Linked DNA regions of Homo sapiens. The protein of the gene in region 2 purifies or fractionates together with the protein of the main gene of each other region. This does not show direct contact. Each region holds a gene or a part of one and is shown on either strand. Other genes may lie near its edges.

What was found.
Region 1: the proteins of B3GALT5 (region 2) and PODXL2 purify together in Homo sapiens (affinity purification with mass spectrometry; one large-scale study listed by BioGRID and IntAct). This does not show direct contact.
Region 3: the proteins of B3GALT5 (region 2) and CSGALNACT2 purify together in Homo sapiens (affinity purification with mass spectrometry; one large-scale study listed by BioGRID and IntAct). This does not show direct contact.

Annotation. Positions count from the first base shown.
Region 1 is NC_000003.12:127,634,633-127,639,861, reverse strand, and holds part of PODXL2 (podocalyxin-like protein 2 precursor), read right to left. Parts: intron 618-5,229; coding exon 339-617; intron 1-338. UniProt on the Homo sapiens protein: Acts as a ligand for vascular selectins. Mediates rapid rolling of leukocytes over vascular surfaces through high affinity divalent cation-dependent interactions with E-, P- and L-selectins.
Region 2 is NC_000021.9:39,667,883-39,673,111, reverse strand, and holds part of B3GALT5 (beta-1,3-galactosyltransferase 5), read right to left. Parts: 3' UTR 1-5,229. UniProt on the Homo sapiens protein: Catalyzes the transfer of Gal to GlcNAc-based acceptors with a preference for the core3 O-linked glycan GlcNAc(beta1,3)GalNAc structure. Can use glycolipid LC3Cer as an efficient acceptor.
Region 3 is NC_000010.11:43,178,893-43,184,121, reverse strand, and holds part of CSGALNACT2 (chondroitin sulfate N-acetylgalactosaminyltransferase 2), read right to left. Parts: intron 873-5,229; coding exon 580-872; 3' UTR 1-579. UniProt on the Homo sapiens protein: Transfers 1,4-N-acetylgalactosamine (GalNAc) from UDP-GalNAc to the non-reducing end of glucuronic acid (GlcUA). Required for addition of the first GalNAc to the core tetrasaccharide linker and for elongation of chondroitin chains.

The sequences.
Region 1 (5,229 bases), on a different chromosome or scaffold from region 2:
CCTCAGGCCAGCTTTTAACCTCTCAGTCTCAGTGTTTTCTTGTCTACAAGGGGGGTCATATTACTTATCTCTCAGGTTATAAGCATCAGATTGAATTAAATGAGCACAGAATAAAGGCTCCCTAAACAGTGGTTAGTATTAAAGAGAAAGGGCCTCCTGGGCCTGTGAGACATTCAGGGTCCCAGAGCCTTTGCTCTGATGTGCAGGTAAACAGCAGCAGCATGGTAAAAACTGTAGGGAGAGAGAAGAGATGCTTCTGGCAAGGAAATGGTCACCTGGTGTTTTGCCTAGACACTTGGCTGGCACTCAACACATGCTCTGTAGGTAAGAAGAGCTACCTGCAGTGGGTCCCAGGTCCAGACTTGAGTCATTCAGCTCTTCCTCCTCTTCCCAGAAGTACTGTGGTGGCTGCAGAATCCGAGACTCTTCATTCTCTTCGCTGGGGAAGCCTGAGCCAGGGGCTCCCAGCCCAGCTCCCAGGCCCATGGTCTCACTAGGCTCCTCTGAGTCCAGTGGCTCCAAGCCAGTGGGCAGCAGGAGGTCTAGCAGGGAGGTGGAGGTGAGGCCCTCTGGGCCAGGCTCATCAGACCCAGCCACACAGGCACCCAGGAACGCTCCTGTGCAGACATAAAAGCCAGACAGTCAGGGGAGGCTAGAGAAGACACAAGACTGGTGCCAGGTTAGAGCATGTCTCAAATGACAAAGGTCCTGGGGAAGGGGGGACTTCAGTGGACACTCCTGAAAACCCAGAGGCTTTGCGGGGATTCTGAGACACTATTTTCATTTCAAAAAGGCCAAATTGCTTAGACTTCCCTATGGCAGGGGCAAGGGGAGACAGATGGAGACAGGCAGGGGAGAGAGAGGAATCACTGAGTCAGTGTTCCACTGCGCATGTGGTCACTCAGAAAATGCCTCCTGAGTACCCTCTCTCTGTTGGCAATTGTACTGGGTGTTGGAGCTACAAACTGAAGTGAAGACAGGGCCCATGCTTTTAAGGACCTAGCAGTATGATTGGACGAACACAGTGTTCCCCAGGCTTCCATCCTTGGCTGAAATTTCTCCAAAACTGCATTATGAATATCATTTGTATTTCAGCAATACAGTATCCTGAACATAGTCTTTAGTTTTTTTATTTTTTATTTTTTTTGAGATGGAGTCTTGCTCTGTCGCCCAGGCTGGAGTACAGTGGTGCAATCTTGGCTCACTGCAATCTCCGCCTCCCAGGTTCAAGTGATTCTCCTGCCTCAGCCCCCCAAGTAGCTGGCATTACAGGTGCCCACCACCACGCCTGGCTAATTTTTGTATTTTTAGTACAGACAGGGTTTCGCCATGTTGGTCAGGCTGGTTTTGAACTCGTGACCTCAAGTGATCTGCCCTCCTAGGCCTCCCAAAGTGCTGGCATTACAGGCGTGCGCCACTGAGCCCAGCCTCTGAACGTAGTCTTTTAAAAAACCACGTGAGGTCACAGTTCAAACTCAACCCAGTGCTGGTAATTTGACATATTTGTTTAGAATCTTGGATTCTCTCTCTCTCCTAATTTACCAAAACAAGCAAATAAATGGACAGGAAAACAAATTAAAGGAGGCCTTTTTCCTCTTCTTTCACTCTCATTCTTTAAGGACAGGAATATAGCCCTATTTGCCAGTTTCACAACTTAACCTCTAACTTAATGACCTAACCACACAAATTACTAACTTGCTGTGAGGCTCCTGGAAAGCTGCTCAAGACCTCTGGGTCTCAGTCTCCTCACCAGATAGACAAGGAAGCTAAATGAAATGACCTCTGAATTCTTTTCCAAGACTAACACTTAAGGATCTAGGGAAGAGGGAATTTCACAGTCTTCCTCTTGCTCTACACCAGATGTGTACTGTGACCTGACTTGACTACAGTACATGGCAATTTTTAGTGATGCTTATAATAAAAATAGGGCTAATATTATTGGTGCCATGTGCTTTGCTGAGCAGGCCCTAAGCTTGATACGTGCCAATACTGTGACTGGCCACTGAAAAAAATGAGCATTTCAGACTGTCCTGTGAGTCTCCGTATGAGGGAGTCTGTGCACACTGTGCAGCAGCCAGACAACTCACAGCCAATAATGCCACATCCAGCCACAGGGGTGTATTCTGGGTTGTGTGGATGGGGGATGGGAAGTAGAGACTCCAGGGTAAGAGAGACGCCCTGAGGTCAGAGACAGGAAGATGTTCTATATAACAGGAGAGAAAGCCTGGTACCAGGAAATAGGTTACACTCTGGCTTCTCTGGCTGAGTGACTTCACCACCACCAGCCTTGCTCTCCTCCTCTGTGTAATAAGGACACCAATTCCTACCATGCCTCCAGTGTGAGGGGCACCAAATGAGGTAATTGGTGAGCCATGTGTGAAAGCTGCTCTACAAAGAGCTTTACAAACCAAACTATTCTACAAATATTGTGTTATTATCCTATATAAAAAACAGAGACCTGTGAAGTTCATGGCCCGGGGAAAAAAATATTTAAAAGAGACCATGGTATCTTCAAATACATTAAAACAAAAGGTTGATGTGAATAAGAATATCAGAGTGATTCTACATGGCCTCAAAGCCAACGCCGGGGCTAAGGAGGCATCAGAGCCTTAGCATCTGACCAGGGCTAGTAAACGTCTGTGCCAACCTCTAAGATCCCGTGAAGCTCTGTCTCTCAATAAGATAATTCACAGGCCCAACTCTCAGCTTTAGAAAGTATCATCATAACTAGAGGATGGGGCTGGGTGTGGTGGCTCACACCTGTAAATCCCAGCACTTTGGGAGGCCGAGGCGGGCGGATCACTTGAGGTCAAGAGGTCGAGACAGGCCTGGCCAATGTGGCAAAACTAGTCTCTCCTAAAACACAAAAACTAGCTGGGCATGGTGGCACACGCATGTAGTCTCCAGCTACTTGGTAGGCTAAGGCAGGAGAATTGCTTGAACCCGGGAGGCAGAGATTGCAGTGAACCAAGATGGTGCCATTGCACTCCAGCCTGGGCGACAGAGTGAGACTCTGTCTCAAAAAAATAAAAATAAAAAAATACCTAAAGGGTGGGCAAGCTGTGACCCTGGGCAGGTGGGAGCCAATGGCACTGCTGTGTTGCCAGTGCTCCTGAGGACTGCTCACAGGGGATTGCCTTCTGCCAAGTCCAAACCAGGAAGCTATCACACCCCATCCGGAATGTCTTCTGCTGTCCTAGGCACCATGTCCACGGACAAAGATTCTGCTTCCAGGCAGGGCCTGGCTCCACGAAGCTGAAGTCATGTTCCCAGAGCCTGTGTCTGAATCCCTGACTCAAAGAGAGAAACAGCCATCTCATATTTTGTGGTTTCTTTGAGCCAAAGGTATTTAAAAGGCAGAGAAAGCCAAGACAATCAATTTGGGGTCCACTCCCCTTGAAGTTCCCCTTTGTTCCTGGGAGAGGATGAATTAAGGACTTGTACTCTCTCTAGCTCAAGACTTTCCCATGACCTCTTCCACTCTAATTCCCCTTCACATCACGGGGGGACCCTAAGCTACTCTTGGATTTTTTCCTAGCCCGAATATTATAGAAGAAAGCAGTATCTATCCCCTACTAGGTAGATGGGAAAGAAACAGAGTGCCCTGTCCTACCCCAAAACAGTACCTTCTTAAGGTTCTTCCTGAGAGGGGTTATCCAATGACTCCCAATTAATAACACACATCTTTGCAATGAGACTTTGTAGCTCCTCCCATCAAGAGATGAAATCTAATTCTCCACTCCTTGAATCTGAGCTACCTTTGTGAGTTGCTACACAAGACAATGCAGAAGTGATGATGTGCCATTTCCAAGGCTAGGCATCAAGATACCTTGCACGCTTCCATTCTCTCAGGATTCTGCTCAAGGCTAGCCTGCAGGAAAACAGGAGCCCATGCAGAAGAGAGCCAGATCAGCTCAGTGTCCTAGCTGAAGTCCCAAAGTGAGAGAGCCAGACAAGACCAGCAAAGGTGATAAACAGCTGATGACAAACTTGAAGGAGTTCAGCTGAGACCAGAACCACCCAGCTGACTGCAGCCTAAATTGCCAAACTACAGAATCATGAGCTAAATAAATGGCTACCGTTTTAATCCAGTGCTTTCAAACTTGAACCAGCATGGAATCACCATGAGGGCTTGTTAAAACAGAGACTGTTAAGCCCACCCTAGAGTTCTGAATCCAGCTGGTCTGTGACGGGGCCCAACAATTTGCATTTCTAGCAAGTTCCCAGGTGATGCTTCTGTCCAGGGATCAGATCTTAAGAACTGAGAATCTGAAACCACTAAATTTTGGGGTGATTTATTACACAGAAATAGCCAAATGATACATTAAGACAAATTATAAATCAAGTTCTCCTTTTGGATCAGAGTAGTGTTTGAATGGTTAAATTCCATTCATTCATCCATCCATTCATTCATTCTTCAACCAAAAAGCCTTTATTAAATGCTTATTTGGACTAGGCATGATCCAAGGCTATGTTGGTACAGAAATAAGAAAGATAGGGTCCCTGCCCCAAAAGGGTCAGTTTCTACTACAGAGACCAGCAAGAAAACAAATCATTATGGAATAGTGTAACAGTGACCATATAACTCTGTTTGAGCCACAGGGTTAGTAGGGCAGGGAGAGAGATCTCAAAGGTAGCTACTAACAGAACTGCTCATGGCACTGTACTAACTGTGCTCAGTACACTGTGAAGGAGAAAGGAGGCTGGAGGAAATAACAACACCGGGATCTCAGGAACATGTGTTCAGTTTCCCTTTCTCTAGGGTAGACAACCATGCCACTCAGGGGGGCACATGGCCGAAATGCCCCACACTTCACGATAAAGCAAAACAGCAGAGACGATACAGAAACATAGATGTGTAGACATGAGAGACGCCTCCATTAGAATTACAGTCCTCATAGTGCTTCACCGCTGGAAGAAAAAGAGAGCTCTTTTACGAACCCCTAGCAATTCCCCCTGCACTCATCTGTCCCGAACACTGCCCTCTAATCAGCGCTTCTCAGACTGAAATGTGTGTGAGTCACCCGAGTCTTCTGACACAGTAGGTGTGACTGATGCTGCTGGTCTGTGGACCACACTTTGAGTGACAAAGCTCAGAGAGGTCTTTTTATTTATTTTTTATTTTTATTTATTTTTTCAGACAGTTTCACTCTTGTCGCCCAGGCTGGAGTGCAATGGCGCGTTCTTGGCTCACTGCAACCTCCGCCTCTCAGGTTCAAGCGATTCTCC
Region 2 (5,229 bases):
AAATGACACTTTGAAAGATCGAGGAGCCAATCTGTACCGCAAAGACAACTTATCATCAAAGACTCTAGAAGTACAATCGTATCAATTCACAAGACTTGATTTCTTCAACTTAAATGATAGCTTTTAGTTAAAATATACCTGAGAGAAGAACTCCAAAGGATGCCTGCCTCATAATCTGCCCTGGACTTGTCATTCCCGACAGGACACCTCAATGGACACTGCCCCACCCCATTAAGACTCTGAAGCGTAGGGTCCCATTGCTTTGCTTCCGAAATCCAAGGGGAACAAGAAGTACCCATCTCTTACAAAAATAAGCATGTCAACATTGTTCAGTACATTTTTCTACACATATAAAATCAAAATAAATTGTAAAAATATTTTTCCAGGTACAAAATAAATATAGAAAACATCAATGTAAAAACAAAAGGATTGTCCGATTCAGACCATTACCTTGCCAATTTTTCGGGAAGAGTGAATTATCACATCAATCGACAACCTAAAACTCACCTAGTTAAGTGCATTATTTTCATAATTTAATTTTCATTAAAAATAAATATGATTATTAACCAATAATAAGGACATATACCCATTTCCAAAATACAATGACATAAGAGTCTAGCAGATCCCCCTAATATACAAGGAAATGACAGTTTCAAATAGCATTCAGTGACATGTAAATTTAATTTCGTGTCTTTTAGGAAAAGCAAAATTTGACTGCGAAGTCTCCTCTGGTTGCATTAAGTAATTTCCAGTCATGGTAGATTTTAGTGATGTCTTATTTGACCAGGTAAAACAAGTCATCTATTTCCCATCTGATACTCTCTGGAGCCGAATTGAACCAAGTATCACTATGTCTTTGGCTTACCTCTTCGGGGACCCAGGGACTGGACCCCTGAGCCAACAGACCTCACGCTGGCTTCGCTGGCAGGAGGGTCTGCGCCTGGCTGTGTCCACGCCACACTGGCCAACTTAACTCTGCGCTTCTTTGACCAGTGAATGGAGGTAGAATAGATGATGTAAAGCAGTATGACACAAAATGTTGCATTTGGCTATGGAGTTCGTTTTTCTGCTCATATTTAAAAGTGATTGTGTCTGATAAGTAGGAAGATCATTTTTTAAATTAATTAAAAACTAATTTTTTGTTTGTCAGTCTTCCGATTGGCAGGTGCCAGGATGCACTCCAACTTCCTCCTGTTGGCGTGGCTCTTGCCCTGTGCAGAGGGTGGACAGGTTCCCTTCAGCTTCAAGGCCAATCTGAGAGCAAGAGGTCCGTTCCTAGCACTCAGATTTCAACAGCAGGAAAACAGACAGAAATTCATGCCTCTACATTCCCAGGGGCCACACACTGCAAATCCTTCTCTCTACATTCCCAACAGAGAATGTAAGCACCTTTCATATCCCAGAGACATAGTTAAGAGTTTACTTCAAATACACCTCAGCCCATGATAAAGTTCCTAGTGTTCACATACAGATTTTGGGGTCACGTAGAACGAAACAGAAATAAAAACAAGTCCCAACAATAATGAATAAAAGAGGCTTCAGGAACTGATGTTTGAAGGAACCTTACAGCTCACTCCCAGGCCACCATTCTTTCTTGTGATGGGAGTTGCCTTGTGGGTGCCTGAATACCACCTTTGAGAGATCCCCTGAGAACCCAATAGATAATTATCAAGTATCTACTCTCCAGCAGGCACCATGCCAGAGACCCAAACAGAGAGAGGAATCAGGCTGGAAGAACTTTAAAATCTGCCAGGAGCGACACAGCCATGGAAATTGCTATAATGTCCATTCTGATATAACAAACGCTGAAAATTAATTAATTAAAAAAATGTTATGAGAAAGCAAATAATTCCTGCTACAGTTTGAATGTGTCCCCCAAAGTGCATGTGTAAGGAAACTTAATCCCCAGTGCAACAGCGTTGAGAGGTGGGACCTTTTAAGAGGTGACTGGGTCAGGAGGGTTCTGCTGTCATGAATGAATTAATGTTATTATAAGAGGAGGGTCAGTTATTGCCAAGAGTGATTTTATCAAAGCAAGTTTTGCTCTTTTGCCCACAATGACACAGCATGAAGGCCCTCACCAGAGGCCAGTGCCAAGCTCTTGGACTTCCTAGCCTCTAGAACCATGAGCCAGATTAATTTCTATTGTCTATAAATCGCCCAGTCTGTGGTATTCTGTTACAGCAACACAAAACAAACTAAGACACTTCCAAATGGAGGACATGGAGAAAATGTAAACATTGCCTCATCTGTTTTTAAAATGAGGGTGCATGGCAGCTGTTAGATTAAATAATTAACAAGCCTGATTTAATATATCACAGAGCCATAGACTCTTGGCACGGAGGGCCCATGAGAGTCACCAAAGCCTGTTTTTTTTTTTCTTTTGGAACTGTTTATCAAGGATTCTAAATAGTATTGCCTCCTCAGTTCTTGCCTGTAAAAAAAACACGTAGATACTCAATAGGCTGGTTGATCTGTTTCACTTTATTTCACTCTTTCTAAATGTTCTGCCTGAAAGTTGGTGTCACATCCTTCAGAGATGTCTGGAACTGTGGACCACGCCTGCAGCTGGCTTCCACCTTACTGAACATGGGTGTGTGGCACATAGCTGTCATATAACAAATGTGTGACTGATTGTGCAAAGGTGAAAACGAGTGAGGCCCTCAACTCCACCCTGCCACCCCAACAGCTGAGGAGGGCAGTGGGGGTGCCTGCTGTTTTACATCCCAGGTAATTAAACCGCCCCTTGCTCTTCCACTGCCCTTCATGGACACGGGTGGGGCAGTTAACATTGTTCAGAACCAGCTTCCACTGAGCATGGTATCTCTAATTAGAGCCTCAGATCTGTCTGTCTGTCTCTCTCTCTCTCATAGATACACACACACACACACACACACACAGTCTGAGTGTGGCGCCCCCGGGCTTGTTTTGCAAGGGCATTAGATAGGGAGACAGGGAAAGTGGGCTGGACTGAAGAGTTTATTTTCTGAAGCCAGACATTTGTTTGGGCTGCCATTGGACACTTGAGTAACCTCAAGAGAGGGCTGGCCAGGGCAGGACAGGTCAGGGGATCCAGCTAAACGGGAGGTCCTTGGGAATGACACAGATAACTAAGTGCCGAATCCCAGGAGGTCAAACAGGCCCAGGAAGGGGCAGACTGAAACTCATATCAACACTTGGAAAAAAAAAAGTGACAGAAGACAGGAAAAGGGGTCAGGTGGCACACTCCTTGGGCAGGGCTGGTCCCAAGCTTCCTATGAAAGCAGATACATCGGAGGACTCACCACTGTGCCAAGTGGAGAAAAGCAAGGCTGCTCGCGGGAGGCAGCATTTGGAGGCCGAGGGCCTGTGTCTCCACCACGTCTGAGCCCCCGGGGAAGTCACTGAGTCACCTGCCCCTCAGTTTCCTCCTCTTAAATCCAGGGGCATAATTATAAGAATGGTGCCCTCCAGAGGCTGCTGTGGGGTTTCAGTGAAACAGCAGGTATGGATGGACATGGCTTACGATGCCCACAGAGAAGGCACTGGAACGCTTCTTTATTCAGCTGTCAAGGGATCAGGTGCCCCTGATAATCTTCTCAGCATTGTGTATTTACCCAGTGAAAGCTCTGTATGCAAAACCCACGGCCTCGAACCTCAGCTTGACCCTCATTCAGGATGCCCGGTCAAAGCACTGAGCACTCAACAGATGAATAAATAAACGAATGAATGTCTGACATGGGATTTCTGATGCCAGCTTTTAATCCTGGATGTGCCACTCGCTGAAGGACCTGGCAAAGTCACTCCATTTTTCTGAGCTTTGGCTTTCCTAACTGTAAAAGGTTTTATCTTAAAAAAAAAAATACTGTAGATAATTTCTAAGGCATCTTCCAGCTCCAACTTCTTTTACCTCATTCAGATTTTCACATATTCTGAATTAAGAGGGTCAAGAACACAGTGCTCTGATTGTGAAGAATGTCACGAACAGAAGAACTTCTCCAAGAGTTCCAGGAAAGATTCAAATGAAGAAAAAGAACAAGAGCTGAAACAAAGCCCTACAGACTCAATCTGAAGAGTTTTTGATTTGCACAGAGATCACCAGACACTGACAGGTACACTGATAGATAGTGCTGTATACACCACCATAGAATCCACCAAAATTCACAGCCCAAACACTGACTATAATCATAAGCACCTGCATTTACTGAGCACCTACCATGGGATGTTGAGCAGTTTATACTCATCCTCTCATTTAACCCACATGATCATCCCATGAGGCGGGAACTACTATGGTCCCATTCTTCAGATAACAAAACGGAGACAATGAGAAGATAAGTAACTTGCCACTCAAGGGACTTGGCGAGGAAGGTAAAATTCAAACCCAGGCAGCCTGACTCCAGAGCGCAGACCCTGCCCCAGCGAACAGAGCCCGGGGGTGAAGGGTATGCCCAAGGTCACACTGGAGGGCTGAGGCCGAGTTCTAAATGTACCACAGCTGGGTGCCATGCAAGCTTGTCCCTCCCGCATGCATATCTCACTCGCATTGATTCAGAGCAGGAGGGGGAAAAAATGCCTAACACTGAGCACGTGTGAGGATGATGTCATGGGAGGAGGAGGCTACAACTTCCATTGAGACAACCATTTCACACCTGGGCACTCCACACCACGCCATCTTAACAAGACCTCCTTCTTCATATCGTTACTCTGCAAATCACACACAGACCTTGCCCCCCAAATCAGGGATATTTGGAATATATATCCTGAGTTTGCAGAGGCTAGCTTAGAGCCTGGGTCTGCAATGGTGGTCTTGGAGTCTCAGGTCACAGAGGCTGGCCTGGTACCAAGATCTACTAGGATAAGCCTAGATCCTGGGTCTACTTGAGCAAGTTGTAACCTGGGTCCTCTGCAGCCTGGGGCCATGGAGACCTCTCTGGTACTTGGGGTCAGCCCGGTGCTGGGGATAACATGGAGCCTTGGTCTCTGGATCTATTTACCCCAAATCAGGAAATAACCAAGCAAACCCATTGCTGCTAAGCAACCACTGCAGGCCATTAGATACAACATCGCGATAGCAGCCCATGCATTCAGCCTGCACCCAGTGCTAGGCACAGCCGTGCCAAGAACTCAATGTGAATTATCTTAATTTCCACACCTCTGACAACCTTCTGAGGTGAACACTATTATCATCCCATTTTATAGAGATGCAGAGACTGAGGTGCAGAGAGAATGACCACCTGGGGCCACAGCTAG
Region 3 (5,229 bases), on a different chromosome or scaffold from region 2:
AAGCAACAGTAAGTTAAGGAGTTTTTAGTTCTACCTTTCTCTTGATTGATTGATTGGGGATTTCAGATGTGTCAATTAATTATCCTCTATTTCAGTGGAAAAGGATTCTTCAAGCTATCAAGTCAAGGAGGCTGACTCAGGGGCGGGCAGGTGAAGATACCTATCCACATACTATGCTCATAACGCTCCATCTCCTCTGTAAGAATGTGCTGCTCTCCACCCAACAGTGGCCCAGCACATTCCATCCGCTCCACCTAGATGCAATCAGGACACCATGCAATCCCACACACAATCAGAACATGGGCACCAGGTAGAACTAACTCAAAACAACTTTTGGGACAAATATGAGATTTCAATTTGTCAATTATTCCATAGTGCAGTATTCTCACAAAACAGAGATTTTGTGTTGAAACATTTGTTTTTTCTTCTCACATCAAGTTGAATTGCTAAAGTAATGTCAGAAAGAACATGAAAAATAAACATGTCTTCTCCAAAAGAGGCACTGCATCTGGAAGTAGAAGTAAGGCTAAATAAATAGTGCTGTTTTGTGGTTCATACAGTAACGCATTAATTATGATTTCAACCAACAGCTTCACTGTTTGTCCTGTATGCCTGTTTATGAAGATGCGTCTCTATTTCCTCCCTGAAGACCAGCATTCCCAGGTGGGAGTGAGAGGCCTCATTCATGGCTTTAGACTGGATGCACATGCGGTACTGCTCGGGGGTCAGCTCATCAGCACAGCGCTTTTCATGCCAGAGGTGGAAAAGACCAGGAACCGGAGTCCGAATCACAATGAGGTCACCATGTAAGTATTTTCGATAAAGATGAACATCTTCTCCACCCCAACCTTTCACTTCCATGTCAAATCCACCTGTAAGATCAAAATTGACACTATAAATAACTGCCTATTATTAGCCAGAGCACAGGGATATATATAAAATTTTAAATGTTCTGCTTCAAAAGGGATGGGATGGTTCAGCAAAAAGGTAGCACGAGACACCTGGCATGGAGGAGTGACTCCCAGTCACCGGAAGTCCAGTTTTGAGCTGACACTTGGACTCAAGGAGCTCAAGGTTGGTTGTTGACAGTATCAAAATGGGGTTAAATATTTAAGAACACTTTGTAAATTTCAAAGTCCTGTAGAAAATCTACAAAAAGTCAAATAAAGGAGAAGAAAATACAAGTCACCTATAATCTCACCACCATTAACTTTTTATGTTTTCTTTTTTTTTTTGTTTTTTTTTTTGAGACAGGGTCTCACTCTGTCACCCAGGCTGGAGTGCAGTGGTGTGATCATGGCTCACTGCAGCATCGACCTCCGTGGCTCAGGCGATCCTCCCATCTCAGCCCCGAGTAGCTGGGACCACAGGCGCATGTCACCATACTCAGCTTTTTTTTTTTTTTTGGTGGAGATGGGGTATCACCATGTTGCCCAGGCTGGTCTCGAACTTTGGGTTCAAGTGTTCCGCCCACTTGGCTTCCCAAAGTGCTGGATTGCAGGCATTAGCCACTGCGACCAGCCACATTTTCTGTCCTTTGAGACACACGCTTTTCTGGGCTATAGAAAAACTCCCCAGAGTGGAAAAAGAAGAAAGGGCCAAGCTGGAGATATAAATTTGAGAATGGGTCCATAGATTATTTAAAGCTACAGGAATGAATGAAATTACTGAAGGAATTTGGAAGGAAAACAGGGCCTAGGTCTAAACACTAAGAAATGCCAATTTCTAGAGGTTAAATAGAGGTAAAGAAAGTTAAGTCAGGAAATGAGATTGAGAAGTGGCCCCAGGTGAGGGAGAAAATTCTGGAAAAGGTGCCATTGTAGTAGCCACGTGAAGAAAGTGTCTTGAGGAAGAAGTTGTCAAGTGTGTGCTATTCAGTGAAGAATTTAAGAAGAACTGACTGGACCTGGCAGCATAAATGTTACTTATAAACTTCCCCAGAACAATTCTGATAGAGTGATGGGGCAGAAGGCTAACTGGAGTGGGCTGCTGCAGGAAGTCAGGGACCCCGAATGGAGGGACTGGCTGAAGCCATGGCAGAAGAACATAAATTGTGAAGATTTCATGGACATTTATTAGTTCCCCAAATTAATACTTTTATAATTTCTTACTCCTGTCTTTACTGCAATCTCTGAACATAAATTGTGAAGATTTCATGGACATTTATCACTTCCCCAATCAATACCCTTGTGATTGCCTGTCTTTACTTTAATCTCTTAATCCCGTCATCTTCGTAAGCTTGAACTCCTGACCTCAGATGATCCACTCACTTCGGCCTCCCAAAGTGCTGGGATTACAGGCGTGAGCCACCGTGCCTGGCCTGTCAAATAATTTTTATTTTTCAGAGATGTGTTCTCACTCTGTTGCCCAGGCTGGAGTGCAGAGGTGCAATCATAGCTCACTGCAGCCTCCATCTCCTGGGCTCAAGTGATCCTTCTGCCTTAGCCTCCTTAGTAAGTGGGACCACAAGTTCGAGCCACCATGCCCGGCTCCTGTCAAATAATTCTATCCCACTTAATTTCACATTAACAGGATGGACAATAATCTGGGGATCTCTGAAAAGTATTAAACAATCAGAGCTTTACTAAATGCTATGTCTGATACATATCAGCTTTTCTTCCTTGTAGATATAAGCTCTTAGAATATTAGAGATGGTACATATACTTAAAACAAATGGGGCATTCTCAGTTTCTGGTCTGGCATGCCTGGAGCTAGAAGTCATCACTCCATCCTAACAAGTCAAAAGCTGAACACTGAAAAAGCAACAACTCCTCTTAGGTCTCTCACAGAGAAGTGAGGTCACAGGGTAAACCACTGCCCTCAAAACTGGTGAGACAGATAGGCAGATACAAAGAATTCCAACTTACTGGAGCAGAAATCTCTGTGGGGACCAGTACCCAGGTAGGAAAACCCTAACTGTAATCGACAAATTGCTGGAGGCTCAGGGGAGGTAAGTCTGAGTGTTAAAAACTCCAGGGGGACCTGGTCATATTGGGACCCCCATACTCATGTGAGTTTTACCTCTAGGAGCTCTATTAGGTCCTCAGTGGTGAAGATCAGAGAAAAATCTCTTAATGCGTCCAGCAGTGGGGAAGGGGAAAAGGTAATCATTTTAAAGTATGCCACAGCATGTTGTCATTATTAACAAAGCCTGTCCTTAGGAGAAGTTATTTAACCAGAGCCTAACCTGCTGGGGTTTTATCAGTGCCTAACTGACTTGGAGGAAGAAATCTACCCAACTAGAGCCCCTTCTAGTCATCCTGTCCAGGAGAGGAGGGGAGACTGAGAAGCATGTGTGAAATTCAGAGTCTGGGATACAGGATCACTAAGAGATTGAGACTTACTTATGGGACTACAGAACACTTCCGCTCCCTCCACACTTCACCACCACATCATCAAAGGCCTATTTATTGCAGTTCCTTTTACGCAGTATATCAAGTCCAACTTTCAACAGAAAACATGACAAGGTATACTAAAAGTTAAGAAAAACACAGTATGAACAGACAGAGCATGTACCAGATCCAGATTCAGATACAGCAGGGATGTTGGAATTATCAGGCTGGGAATTTAAAACAACTATGTATAATACTCTAAGGGCTCTAATGGAAAGAGCAGATAACACACAAGATGCGGAACATAAGCAGTGAGATGGATCTAAGGAATTTAAAAAAATGCTAGAGATCAAAAACACTGCGAAATAAATGAATGCCTTAGATGGGTTCATTAGTAGACCGGACTTAGCTTAAGAAACAATCTCTGAGCTTGAGGATATGACAATAAAAATTTCCAAAACAGAAAATCAAAGAAAAAAAAAGACTGAAAATAAAATGAACAAAATATCTAAGAACGGTGGGACAACTACAAAAGATGTAACATATGTATAATGGGAATACCAGGAAGAAAGGAAACAAGGGAACAGAAGCTCCAAATAAAGAGTCTAAGTTCTAAACAGGTGCAGCTCTTTTTCACCCAGCCCACAGCAACAGGGTGGAGGCTCCACTTCCAGGTGTGGCCAGCTGAGAATACTGGGGGTCCTCCTGCCCCTACCCAGTGTCCTGCTCATAGGGCAGAGGTGGTCACTCTGCTTAATAAGTGTGTCACTGTCCCCATCCTCAGGGCAAAACCTCATGGATTTTTTCCCCCGGGGGAGAGGAAGTCCATAAGAACAAAGTGCTCCAAAGTTCTTCCCTAAGGAACTGACTTTATTTAAAATAGAATGTAGAGAAGTTCAGAGTTTAGAGAAGTTCCAGCCTCTTGAAAATAATGGAGATTTTGGTAGTAAGCAATTAAGAGGAGGCTGGTAACTCCAGGAGGGCAACAGCTAAACTGTAGGCCAGCTAATTTACTAGAGAGAACCACAGAGAGAGATAGTAAGAATATACCTCCTGGGGTCTGAACAAATCTCAAAGACTTGCTGCAAAAACTATCCCTGCAAAAGGGCCCAATTTAGTAGGGACAGATTATGGAGCAATTTATGCCCCAGAGCATTGTCAAAAACAAGACAGCAATTAGTGAACAGTCAGTGGAGTCTAATAGGAGTGATACCAATGGAGGCATGGAAAGAGATAAAGAGAGCCCTGCTAAATCCAATGCCATCCTAGGATAACTGCACAGGCCCTGAGGAGCAACAGCAGAGGCTTCATATTGCCAAAAGGTCGGGGAAGGAGGAAGAAATAATTTGTTAAAATAGTCCAGCCATGTCAATAAATAAATAAACAAGGAAAAAAAAAAACCAAGCCGTGGTGGTAGAGGGAAATCAGTATCCAGAGTTGCCACAGTGTATTACCTAAAATGTCTAGTTTTCGAAAAAGAAATAATGAGGAATGCAAAGAAACAAGAAGATGTGACATACGCTTAAAAAAAAAAAAAAAACCGGCAAGCAACAAAAACTGCCTGTGTTAGGGCCCAGACATTAGCTTTAATACACAAAAATTCCAAAGCAGCCATTGTAAGTATGTTCAAAGAATTAAAAGAAGTCACACTTAAGGAAGTAACAGAAGATGACAATGTTTCATCACATAGAGTATTAATAAAGAAATTATATATATATCAAAAGAACCACATAGAAATTCTGAAGTTAAAAACTATAGTAACTGAAATAAAAATTCATTAGAGTAGCTCAACAGTAGATCTAACAGAAAAAACAATCAGAGAACTTGGATAGATCAATAGAAATTATGCAATCTGAAGAACAGAGGGAGAAAAGAATGAAGAGAAATAAACAGAGCC